2 separate regions of the Homo sapiens genome follow, and region 2 is linked to region 1. The links come from fine-mapping of genetic effects on gene expression. A gene starts in region 1. The other region holds a variant in brackets. All regions are shown on one strand. Distances are between the middles of the regions. Region 1 holds the start of LINC02094 (long intergenic non-protein coding RNA 2094). Region 2 overlaps EPN2 (epsin 2).

Evidence for each region. PIP is the estimated chance that this variant, and not a neighbour inherited with it, causes the effect.
Region 2: its variant is the best candidate, but not a certain one, in a credible set for the expression of LINC02094 in tibial artery (GTEx, PIP 0.62).

Annotation. Positions count from the first base shown.
Region 1 is chr17:19,415,173-19,420,544 of GRCh38, forward strand. LINC02094 (long intergenic non-protein coding RNA 2094) reads left to right here and starts at 3,176. Exons shown (of 3, transcript NR_186796.1): 1 at 3,176-3,697; 2 at 3,775-4,008. RNF112 (ring finger protein 112) reads left to right here. Exons shown (of 14, transcript NM_007148.5): 11 at 1-35; 12 at 114-167; 13 at 346-420; 14 at 533-2,104. The coding sequence ends at 1,003.
Region 2 is chr17:19,318,126-19,323,497 of GRCh38, forward strand. All of the region lies in intron 7 of EPN2 (epsin 2), which reads left to right. Among named protein-coding and RNA genes, the nearest start is that of EPN2-AS1, 15 kb to the left of the region's middle. The variant G/C (reference allele first, on the strand shown) is at 2,959.

The sequences.
Region 1 (5,372 bases):
TACTCACGGGGCAGCAGCTAGCTCAGGAAATCAAGGTGTGAAAACTCCCTGGAGACCCAGGCGACTCGGCTGGGCCCCTGCTCTCCCTGACCCCAGCGATGGTATCTCCGCAGAACCTCTCAGGATGGATGGGGAGGACAGGGCCCGGTTTCACCTCTCCGGATGAGGTATGAGCGCTGGGGGATCCAGCATTCTGGCAGGGAGACAGGGGAGGCAGGGAGGTGGGGGCTGTGCCGAGGCCTCCGGGGTGGGGGTCTGTGTGCCCTGGGAGTGGAGATGAGGAAACAAGCAGCGCCCCTGGCTGAGAAGGAAGGAAGGAGGCAGCCTGGGTTTTCCCGTGGACAGATGGCTGCTCAGCTGCACGACCTGAGGAAGGTGGAAGCTGCCAAGAGGGAGTTCGAGGAGTATGTGAGGCAGCAGGTGAGCCCCGGGGCTGCACGGGAGGCAGGTGTGGGCCGGGCAGGGTCCAGATCAGGGAGAGGATACCTGGGACTCCTGGTCAGGGCACCTTCTTTTCCCCTCCCTGTCACAGGACGTAGCCACCAAGCGCATATTCTCTGCGCTGCGGGTCCTGCCAGACACCATGCGGAACCTCCTCTCCACCCAGAAAGATGCCATTCTGGCCCGCCATGGTGTGGCCTTACTCTGCAAGGGGAGAGATCAGACCTTGGAGGCACTGGAAGCTGAGCTGCAGGCCACGGCCAAGGCCTTCATGGACTCCTACACGATGCGCTTCTGTGGCCACCTAGCTGCTGTGGGGGGTGCTGTGGGGGCCGGGCTCATGGGCCTGGCAGGGGGCGTGGTGGGTGCTGGCATGGCAGCAGCTGCACTGGCTGCAGAGGCTGGGATGGTGGCTGCTGGAGCTGCCGTGGGGGCCACAGGGGCCGCTGTGGTTGGGGGTGGCGTGGGTGCTGGGTTGGCTGCCACAGTGGGCTGCATGGAGAAGGAGGAGGATGAGAGGCTTCTGGAAGGGGACCGAGAGCCCCTTCTCCAGGAAGAGTAACAGCCCCAGGAGGTATTGAAGGACAGGAGAGATGTCAGGTGGGGATGAAGAAGAGGGGCAGGTCGGGGGAGGGTGATGCCAGGGATTCCAAGGCACCGCCATGTACTGCACTGCCCTGGTCGAATGCTCGGTGTCTGGGTGGCAGCTGAGCTGGGACTCAAGGTGGCTCTTGGAACCTGGGAGGCAGCATCTGGGGGCAGTGGATAGAACACCCGGCCTGTTTCTGGTTGCAGATGGTTGCCGATCTGCCCTTGTCACAGATAGGCTACATCCCAGGGTTTCTGGCTGCAAGTGAGACTCCACCCTCCCCACCTGGCTCATTTCCCCGATGACCCTGGATTGTAGGAAAGTTAAGCAGGCACCATCCTGGAAGTCTACCCCTAGGTGGTCGAGAGACCTGTTCTTTCACAGATGTGAGAAGCCCCAGGATGATTGACCATGGTGTTCAGGAGCGGGGAGCACTGATGAGGTGCTGGGGATGACAGGAAGGAAGGAACACTGGGCAGAACCAGAGAGATGGGACATGGTAGACTGTGGCCCAGACCCCAGAGCAGAGAAACTTGTTCCCATGACCCTTCCCAAATCTGCTCCAGCAGGACTAAGGTGGCTTTCCCACTCCTGGCCCACAGCCCCAGAGAGCCTGTCTGTGCATCCTGAACCACTCTTTGCTGGGCCTCCGCAAGGGCCTCTCTTGGGTCTGTGTCCTTTTTCAAGCCTGTTTAGATGGGGGAGTGCCCATGCCCTCTGTGAAGTGCCCAAATGCGAAAGAATAACACCTTTTCTTGCATTCTGAGCTAAGCCAGACAGCCTTTATACTAGATTCTATCAAAATCTTGCAAAGGAAAACAAAATGAACAACTTCTACCCTTAAACACATCCTTTCTCCCCTGGGCTTGTAAGAAGATGCAGCTTGATGCAGCTCCTCAAACACCAGGCCCCCTGGGAACTGGGGGTGCGGGAGTTCTCCCTCTGGGGGACAGAAAATCTGACTACTAGGAAGACTTCTAGGCTATGAAACTGACTTCTAGGCTATGAAACTTACAGGGTATGGGTGGGCACATTATCCTTTATTTTATGAAAAATAAAATGTGTGTATGTGAATGTCAGCTTCCCAGTATATTATTGAAACAGAATTTAACCCTCAGATGACTTCATGGTGGGAGCAGGTGAACCAATGAGATCCATTGCTGGAATGCACAGATGGGAAGAGGGAGATTGGAATTCAAGAGATCCAAGGAAGTGAACGTCAGAGGTCCCCATTCAGTGGCTGCAAGAGGCCTCAGGCCAAGGCCAAGTGGATATGGGCACCTTTGCAGGCTCTTCCACTAGGACTTGGGGTTCCGCTCCTCTTGTCTCCTCTCTGAGAAACTGCTTCCCATGATCCTGTCAACAGGCAGTCAACAAGCACCTGTCCCAGCAAGAGGACAGAATGGATACATAAGCAGAGAGAACTTGGTCAAGCCTTGAAGGAAGGAGAAGCCCAGGACCACTTCTGCAGGGCTCAGCCAGCCAGGAGTTCACCCAACTGATTCTCCTCCCAGCCCTGCTCCCCAGCTCCCCAGCTCCCCATCTCAGAACCACAGCAGTAGTCACTGCATCCAATCCTGGCATTTTATAGGTGCACACCCAGAGAGAGAAAGTCTCAGATAAGCCTGTGCAGCTGCTGATGACAGAAGCAGGGGAACCCCGAAGTCCTGGTTCCCAAGCTGGTGCACTTCCTGAAGTTATTTTGTTAAGGTCGACTGTGCTGAAATTGAGATGCTCCTTTTCAGATGCTTCTTCTGGCTGATCAGGTCCAGCTCCAGGGAAGTGTGTGGTGGGCAGAGGCAGCAACGTGGTCTAGAACAGATGGCTCAGCAGTGAAGCTATAGTTAACAGGCTGGGGACAAAATACAGAATGTAGAGAAATCCCAAAGCCAGGGTGGGGTTGAGTGGGGTAAAGACAAATGAGAGTGACTCTCTCTTTTAGGGTCTGAGCCAAGGGTGGGAACAGGGTCTTAACTTTGTGTAGTGTTTGTGGAGAAGGACTTTCTGGAAGCATCTTTCTGAGCCCTTCCACTGTCATCTGGTGGACACATGAGCTATGAAACCTTCCAGACTTTGGAGGCTCAGGATGAGGGGGCCCAGAGACTCAGAGAGGGAGGGTGTTACATGGCTAGAATCCCACCCGGCAGCACTGGAAGGAACAACAGTTCAGTGTCTACCTCTCCCCACTCTTTGCACAGATGGGAAGAAGTTGGCCCAGTGAGGGATGTCTCTGCAGAGACAAGATGAGTAATATTAAGTGGTGTTTGTCTTGTGCCTTGTAGCTTTCAAAACATTTCCTCAAACATTATCTCCCTTAAGCCTTGAAATCATCTCAAGCAGTATGTAGAACACACATTTTCACAGAGGAGGACGCTGAAGCTGAGAGAAATAATGTGTCTCAGTGGAAACAACTAGTCAGAGGTAGGCCAGGACTTGACCCCAAGAGTTCTGGTGCCAAATCCCTGGCTCAGTGGAGCCTTCAAGCCTCTCCAGACTCCAAGACGACCAGGCTTCTGGGTTCCAAACCTGATTAGTTGGCTTCCTGGGCTTCCAACATTGATTCTGTAATTCACAAGAGCCCAGGTGTGACTCATTGACCGAGGTCTCAGCAGCATGCTGACGTCTGGCTGGTTTCCCTTCTGTGACCCACTGCAGGTTCCAAGATTGGTAGGTTCCAAGATTGGGTTAGAGGTTTGGTGACTTGCCGTGTGGTTCCTGTTTCTGAGGCCTCCCTCATGTTGCAGATGGCAGTACTGCAAGACAAGAGGAACCTGCGACCTGAAGGCCCTTGACTGCTTGGATCAGGAATAAGCCCTCAACTCCACTGGCTCTCATCAAACCACGCCGCGAGCAAGGAATAAACTTTTACTGCATGAAGGGGATGCGACATCTAGGTCGACTTAGTACACCATCACCCACCCTACTCTAACACACACAGAAATGGGTTCTTTGAAATGGAGTGATGCTGTATCAGACAGGTAAAGTATCACCAGTTGGGGGCTGGGCAGTAAGGAAAAGCATTTTATGTCACAGCAGAACGTTTGCTAAAATTGTTGCCTACGGCAACTTGGAAGACAGACCTTGTGCTATCGAGGAAAAAAAACTATTTTAAATAAAATCTCCTGCCAACCCAGAATATTCTCTCCACAAATGTAGAAAATAAAGAAAATACTAGTTCTGTGATTGAATAAGCATTAAACACATGGATGCATTATCAGCTAACGCAATCATAAAGACAGTCAGAAATCCCCCTATTTATGTAGTCAAGCAGCTACAACCCGTTACACACATGCTGTCATGTGTGAGGACTTGAACTCAGGTGAGAGAGAGCTCCACAGCGTCGTTTGCTATACATGCACTTACAGCGTACCTAATTCACCTGGTGATTGGGGTGGTCATCTGTGCTAATTAGTGCCTTTTTCTGTAGGGAAAATAAAGCAACTTGAATCTCTAGGAAATGCAGTTGTTGGCCGGGCGCAGTGGCTCACATCTGTAATCCCAGCACTTTGGGAGGCCGAGGTGGGCAGATCACGAGGTCAGGAGTTCAAGACCAGCCTGGCCAACATAGTGAAACCCTGTCCCTACTAAAAATACAAAAAATTAGCCAGGTGTGGTGGTGGGCACCTGTAATCCCAGCTACTTGGGAAGCTGAGGCAGGAGAATCACTTGAACCCGGGAGGCGGAGGTTGCAGTGAGCCGAGATCACACCACTGTGCTCCAGCACAGGCGACAGTGTGAGACTCCGTCTCAACAAAAAAAGCAGGTTGTGCAAGGCACCTAGGCACGCCTTGACACACCGTTGGTGACAGCAACATGTCGTCCTTGATGTTACACTTACGAGAGGGGGCTCCCAGCCTTTTCAGAAAAACAGTTTTGGGTTTTAATTCTGGTAAAAGATTTATTTAAACTTTAAAAAGACTTGCATAAGTATCTGAAGGAACAGAGGAAGGATTTACAAATACAGGCTTTCTCAAGGAAATAGAAAGGGGAGGGGGAGAAGGGGTCTCTTTTCCTTTTGGAAACAAAACGAATGCCATCTTATTTTTATTTACCTTTACAGTTTCCCGCCCTTTGTTATCATTATTGTTATTATTATATTTTTGAGAAGGAATCTCACTCTGTCGCCCAGGCTGGAGTGCAGTGGCTCGATCTCAGTTCACTGCAAGCTCCGCCTCCCGGGTTCACACCATTCTCCTGCCTCAGCCTCCCGAGTAGCTGGGACTACAGGCGCCCACGACCATGCCGGGCTACTTTTTCTGTATTTTTAGTAGAGACGGGGTTTCACTGTGTTAGCCAGGATGGTCTCGATCTCCTGACCTCGTGGTCATCCCGTCTCAGCCTC
Region 2 (5,372 bases), 97 kb before region 1:
ACGCCAAACAGCTTGTCCATGATTACCTGGGTGATTTGGAGGTGGTCAGGATTTGATTCAAGCACAGACTTCACTCTATGTTCAAAGCTGTCTGGGCTGTGACCAACTTTGTCTGTGTGGGCTATAAGAGTAGGGGGTTCTTGGCTGGACATGGTGGCTGACGCCTGTAATCCCAGCATTTTGGGAGGCTGAGGTGGGCGGATCACGAGGTCAAGAGATCGAGACCATCCTTGGCCAACATGGTGAAACCCCATCTCTACTGAAAATACAAAAACTAGCCAGGCGTAGTGGTGGGCACTTGTAATCCCAGCTACTTGGGAGGCTGAGGCAGGGAGAATCGCTTGAACCCGGGAGGCGGAGGTTGCAGTGAGCCGAGATCATGCCACTGCACTCCAGCGTGGGCAACAGAGCGAGACTCCATCTCAAAAAAAAAAAAAAAAAAGAGTAGGGGGTTCTTTCTGAGCCAAAACTTGTAGTTTCAACATTGTGCATGATACAGTTGCAGAGTTTTAAAATTCTTAGCAGTGCTGTTGTTTGTTATTTTAATAGCAGATTCTAAAGGGGAAGCAGGGCCCATAAGAGCTAACTGGAGGTGTCAGAAGAGTCTCTGGAATAGTTTCAGGTGGCATTCCACTGGAGTGTGGGGTTCTCACGTGGAAGCCTGGCCCATGAGTCCTGGATGGTGGGTCAGCGTGCTGCTGGCTCATGGAGAGTGCTTCAGAACCCGTGCAGTGGAGATACTGCACATATTGCAGAGTTCATGGTAGAAAGAATTCTTCCGGAAATGTTGGCTGGGCATGGTGTCTCACGTCTGTAATCACAGCACTTTAGGAGGCCAAGTTTGGCAGATCACATGAGGCCAAGAGTTCGAGACCAGCCTGGCCAACATGGTGAAACCCCGTCTCTACTAAAAATACAAAAAATTAGCCAGGTGTGGTGGTGTGTGCCTGTAATCCCAGCTACTTGGGAACCTGAGGCATGAGAATCGCTTGAACCCGGGAGGCAGAGATTGCAGTGAGCCAAGACCATGCCACTGCACTCCAGCCTGGGCAACAGTGAGACCCTGTCTCAAAAAAAAAAAATTTCCAGAAATGTTAAAATGCCTTGTGTTAACTCTTAAAGATATAAACCTATTAGTTTAAACTGTGTTTAGAACCTCACTGTCTGAGAGTACGTCTAGATGGAAGGACAGATTCTACTTTTTAAATTTTTTTTTTGAGATGGAGTCTCGTTTTGTCACCCAGGCTGGAGTGCAGTGGCGCAATCTCGGCTCACTGCAACCTCTGCCTTCCAGGTTCAAGCAATTCTCCTGACTCAGCCTCAGCCTCCCAAGTAGCTGAGATTACAGGCGAGTGCCACTACGCCCAGCTAATTTTTTTGTATTTTTAGTAGAGACGGGGTTTCACCATATTGGCCAGGCTGTTCTTGAACTCTTGACCTCATGATCCACCTGCCTTGGCCTGCCAAAGTGCTAGGATTACAGGCGTGAGCCACCTCGCCTGGCCCCTTTTTTTTTTATTTTTTATTTTTATTTTTTTTTGAGAGAAGGTTTCCCTCTGTTGCCCAGGCTGGAATGCAGTGGTATGATCTGGGCTCACTGCAACCTCCGCCTCCCAGGTTCAAGCAGTTCTCCTGCCTCAGCCTCCCAAGTAGCTGGGACTGCAGGCATCTGCCACCACACCCAGCTAATTTTTGTATTTTTATTAGAGACAGGGTTTCACCATAGTGACCAGGCTGGTCTCCAACTCCTGACCTTGATCCACCCGCCTCGGCCTCCCCAAGTGTTGGGATTACAGGCGTGAGCAGCGTTGGGATTACACCATGCCCAGCGACAGATTATACTTTTGCAGGGAGCCTGGGTGTGCAGCGGCTGAGGCCAGAAAGGCGAAGCCTGAGGGACCTGGGGCTCGGAGCAGAGCTCAGAGACTCCTCTCTGGTGAGGGCCTCTGCAGGGGCTCAGGCATCCTGGATTCCCTTAAATGCCTAATCTTTATATTGTGTCTCATTGTCTGCCTGGCAAACTCTTATGTATTTTTGAAATCATGGCTCAGACATCCCTACTCAGGGGATGTGGTCACCCCGTCCTCAGGCCTGCCTCTTGCCCTCTTGCCATTGATGGCTGCCTGTGACCCGCATGCTGGCTGTAGTGGCTGTCTGTTTCTCTATCTCAGAGGGAGGGGCCATCCTGGGGCCAGGCCTGGGGACTGCTGACCAAATGTTGCTTGGATAGAACAAGGTGACCGTGGGAGACCAGAGCTTGTCTCCACCACGCATCTGCCCACTCAGGCTTGTAAGTCTGAGCTGGGTGCTCACATGGGGCCTCATTTTTGAGGAGGGCTTGGTGAGAGGTCTGGGTGCACCCAGAGCTCAGTGTTTCTTATGCATCCTGTCTGCCCATTTGAGTCATCTCAGTAGCTTCTAAAAATCCAAATGCTCAGGCCCACCCCAGAATCTGTGTGTATGCAGAGGACAGCATCAGTATTTTACTAAAATCCCTAAGAGCTTCCCAAGAAGAACCATGGTTGAGAACCACTAGTCTGGTGCCCCCTGGCCCAGGGTGCATGAATACCACTCAGTCTAAGACACTTGAAAGCTCCATGTCTTAGATAATCAGGATGGAGATTATGGGCCACTCTAATCTGGTTGTGTTTCTGAGCCCCTGAATTGGACATTTATCCAGAACCTGTTAGAAGTGGTCACTGAACTCCAGTGTGCAGAGATGCAGATAAACTGCAAAGTCCCTGCCAGCCTGAGGTCCTGTGGGTCCCTTGATCCTTGTGACCTCTCTTCAATCCCTAGTTAGTGATGGAGCACACCCTCTGTGTGTCAGGCTTGGATCTCGGGGATGGGCAGCAAAGCAGACCCAGCCGATGTTCTCATGGAGCACATGCTTTGGCAAGGGGGACAGATGCAGTCTCACATGCACACAAGCGGCATGAGTGCCCTGAGAAGGGTTTT[G/C]AGCTGGGTTTAGAGTGGGAACTGCATGGCGGGCTGGCATAGAGGCTGCAGAGTGGGGGCTGGGCCTTCCCAGCAAGTGCCCCACATACAGTATGTCAGGGGAGCCAGTTTGTTCGAGATGTGATGCTGCCCTCAGCTTGACCCAGTGGCTAGGAGGTGACCACCAACACTCAGACCCCCTTTGCTGTGTTGTTCACCTCAGAAGCTCAACCCTTTGCTCTGGCACGCACAGTGGCTGCCTCTGGTGCCCACCTCATAGTCCCAGTTAACACAGCCCAGGGAATAGAGAGAGTGGATTTCTCTGTAGCTCCAGTACCATTTCTGGGATTTAGGGATGGGGGACTGGAGTTGGGGACACTTTGCAGATTGACTTTAACCAGTGAGAACCCTTTTCTGTTGCCAGGGCAGGATCTGTCCCTTTTGAGACTGACTGGAAGTGGGTGAGGGGAGAATTCTTCCAAGGAGAACCAGGGCATCCTTGCAGGAGAAAGCAGGAGTGGGGGATAGAAGTAACCGGGGCATGTCCCCTGACAGAGGCAAGTGGGAAGGGATAGTAGCTGGGGAGTGAGATATTGTGCAGGGGAGATGATGCATGGTCAGGGCTGCAGGGAAAGCGAGGCTCCAGTCTGTTATCCAGGCACAGCTGGGCTGCTGAGCATGGGCAGTGAGGAAGGCATGTTGACTCCCCCAGGCTCCACAGGGGGCCAGAATCAGCCTGGCACTTGGCCCCAGGTCTCCCGTGTCCTCTGTGTTGTGTCACCGCAGTCCTGAAGTCACACCACAGCTCTTCGGCTTGCAGTCAGCTCTCTCCCTGATTTGTCATTTCCACCATGCCACTTACGTCCAGCTGGGACAGAGAGCTGAGGACCCACAAGGTGTCCTGTTGCAGGGGGTTAGAGTGAGGGCTTGTCTCTACAGTGTGATTCCAGCAGGGGGCAGATTTTTGTTTACTGATAGCCCCTTCCCCATGTCGAGCAGAGGTGGACCTGGCAAGGGCAGCTTCAGTCCTGGGGGAGGACGATCTGCATGAGACACTGGAAGACGAGGAGTGAAGTGTCAGAAGAAGCTTCTGGATGGAAACAGTTATTTCTGGAGCCTCTAGAAGGTTGTGGGTTCTGGGGCAGTAGCAGGAGAAGCCCTGAGTCCAAACAGGAGTGGACAGGCCATGAGGAAACGAAAGGCACAAGTATCCATGGGATGTTGGGAACAAAGCTTGCAGATTGACATCTGCTTTGGCCTGGCCAGGCCCCCATCGCCGGGGCAAGCTTGGGAAGGAGTGAAGGCAGCACTCTCCTCCTCTCCCTCCTAGTGCTGCTACAGCTAGCCAGTAGCTGATCCCGGCCAAAAGTGAAAAAGGCCACCAAGATAGTGGCTGGTGGGCCAGGTGCAGTGTCTCCTTGCGCCTGGCCAATAATATATTTTTACGTAAGAATTTGTGGGACAACTGAAACCTGTGAGACCAGCCTGGGCAACATAGGGAGACCCCATCTTTACAAAAAATAAAAAAATCAGCCAGCATGGGGGTGTGTGCCTGTGGTCCCAGCTACTTGGGAGGCAGAAGTGGGAGGATCCCTTGAGCCTAGGAGGTTGAAACTGCAGTGAGCTGTGATTGCACCACTGCGCTCCAGCCTAGGTGACAGAGCAAGAACCTGTCTCTAAAAAAAAAAAAAAAAAAAGGTAGTGGCTGGTGTGGCTTAATAGGCCCTTACTAAAGCTATTCAGCATTTCAGAGACGAGAAGGCATGAAGCTACATGTAGGATGCCTAGCAGTTGGTTCATCTTTTTGAAAGCCAAGGAGTCTCCTCTTCACCTGTCCATCCTTGAGCAGCAGAGCTGGGGCTTTTAAGAGAAGCATTTGTAGAATTCAGAGTAGGAATGAGGGAAGAGACTAGTTGTCTCGGAGGCTCAGGGGAGCATTCCCTGGTCTTCTGAGATTGACACATCACTGCCACCTTCTGCTGCCTTTCTCTAGGCCTCAGAGCTCAGCCAGGCTGTCACAAGCTTGCTGGGTGCCACCCTAATGTCTGGTGCCAGGGCTGAAGGTAGCCCTCACTCCAGGGAGTTTACAGTGCATGAGAGACTCATAGTTAAATAATAGTTATGGTGCTGTATGATAAGTGATCTAAAAGTCAAGGGGGGGATTCCAGAGGAGTCAGAGAAGGCAGGAAGAGAAAATAAGAGGGCCGGAGAGGCCCAGAAGATGCCAGGCATTTGGGAAGCAGTTGGGAATCAGTGTGGCTGGGGGTAAACACGGGAGCAGAGTGAGGACACCTAACACATATCTGTTTGGAGTTTCAGAAGAGCTAATATTTGAAAGCTGACAGGGTTTTCCAGAATTTTGGAAAGATGCTCCTTCTCAGATCCAGGAAGCCTGGTGAATCCTAAGCAAGATAAATCAAAGAAATCCCCACCTG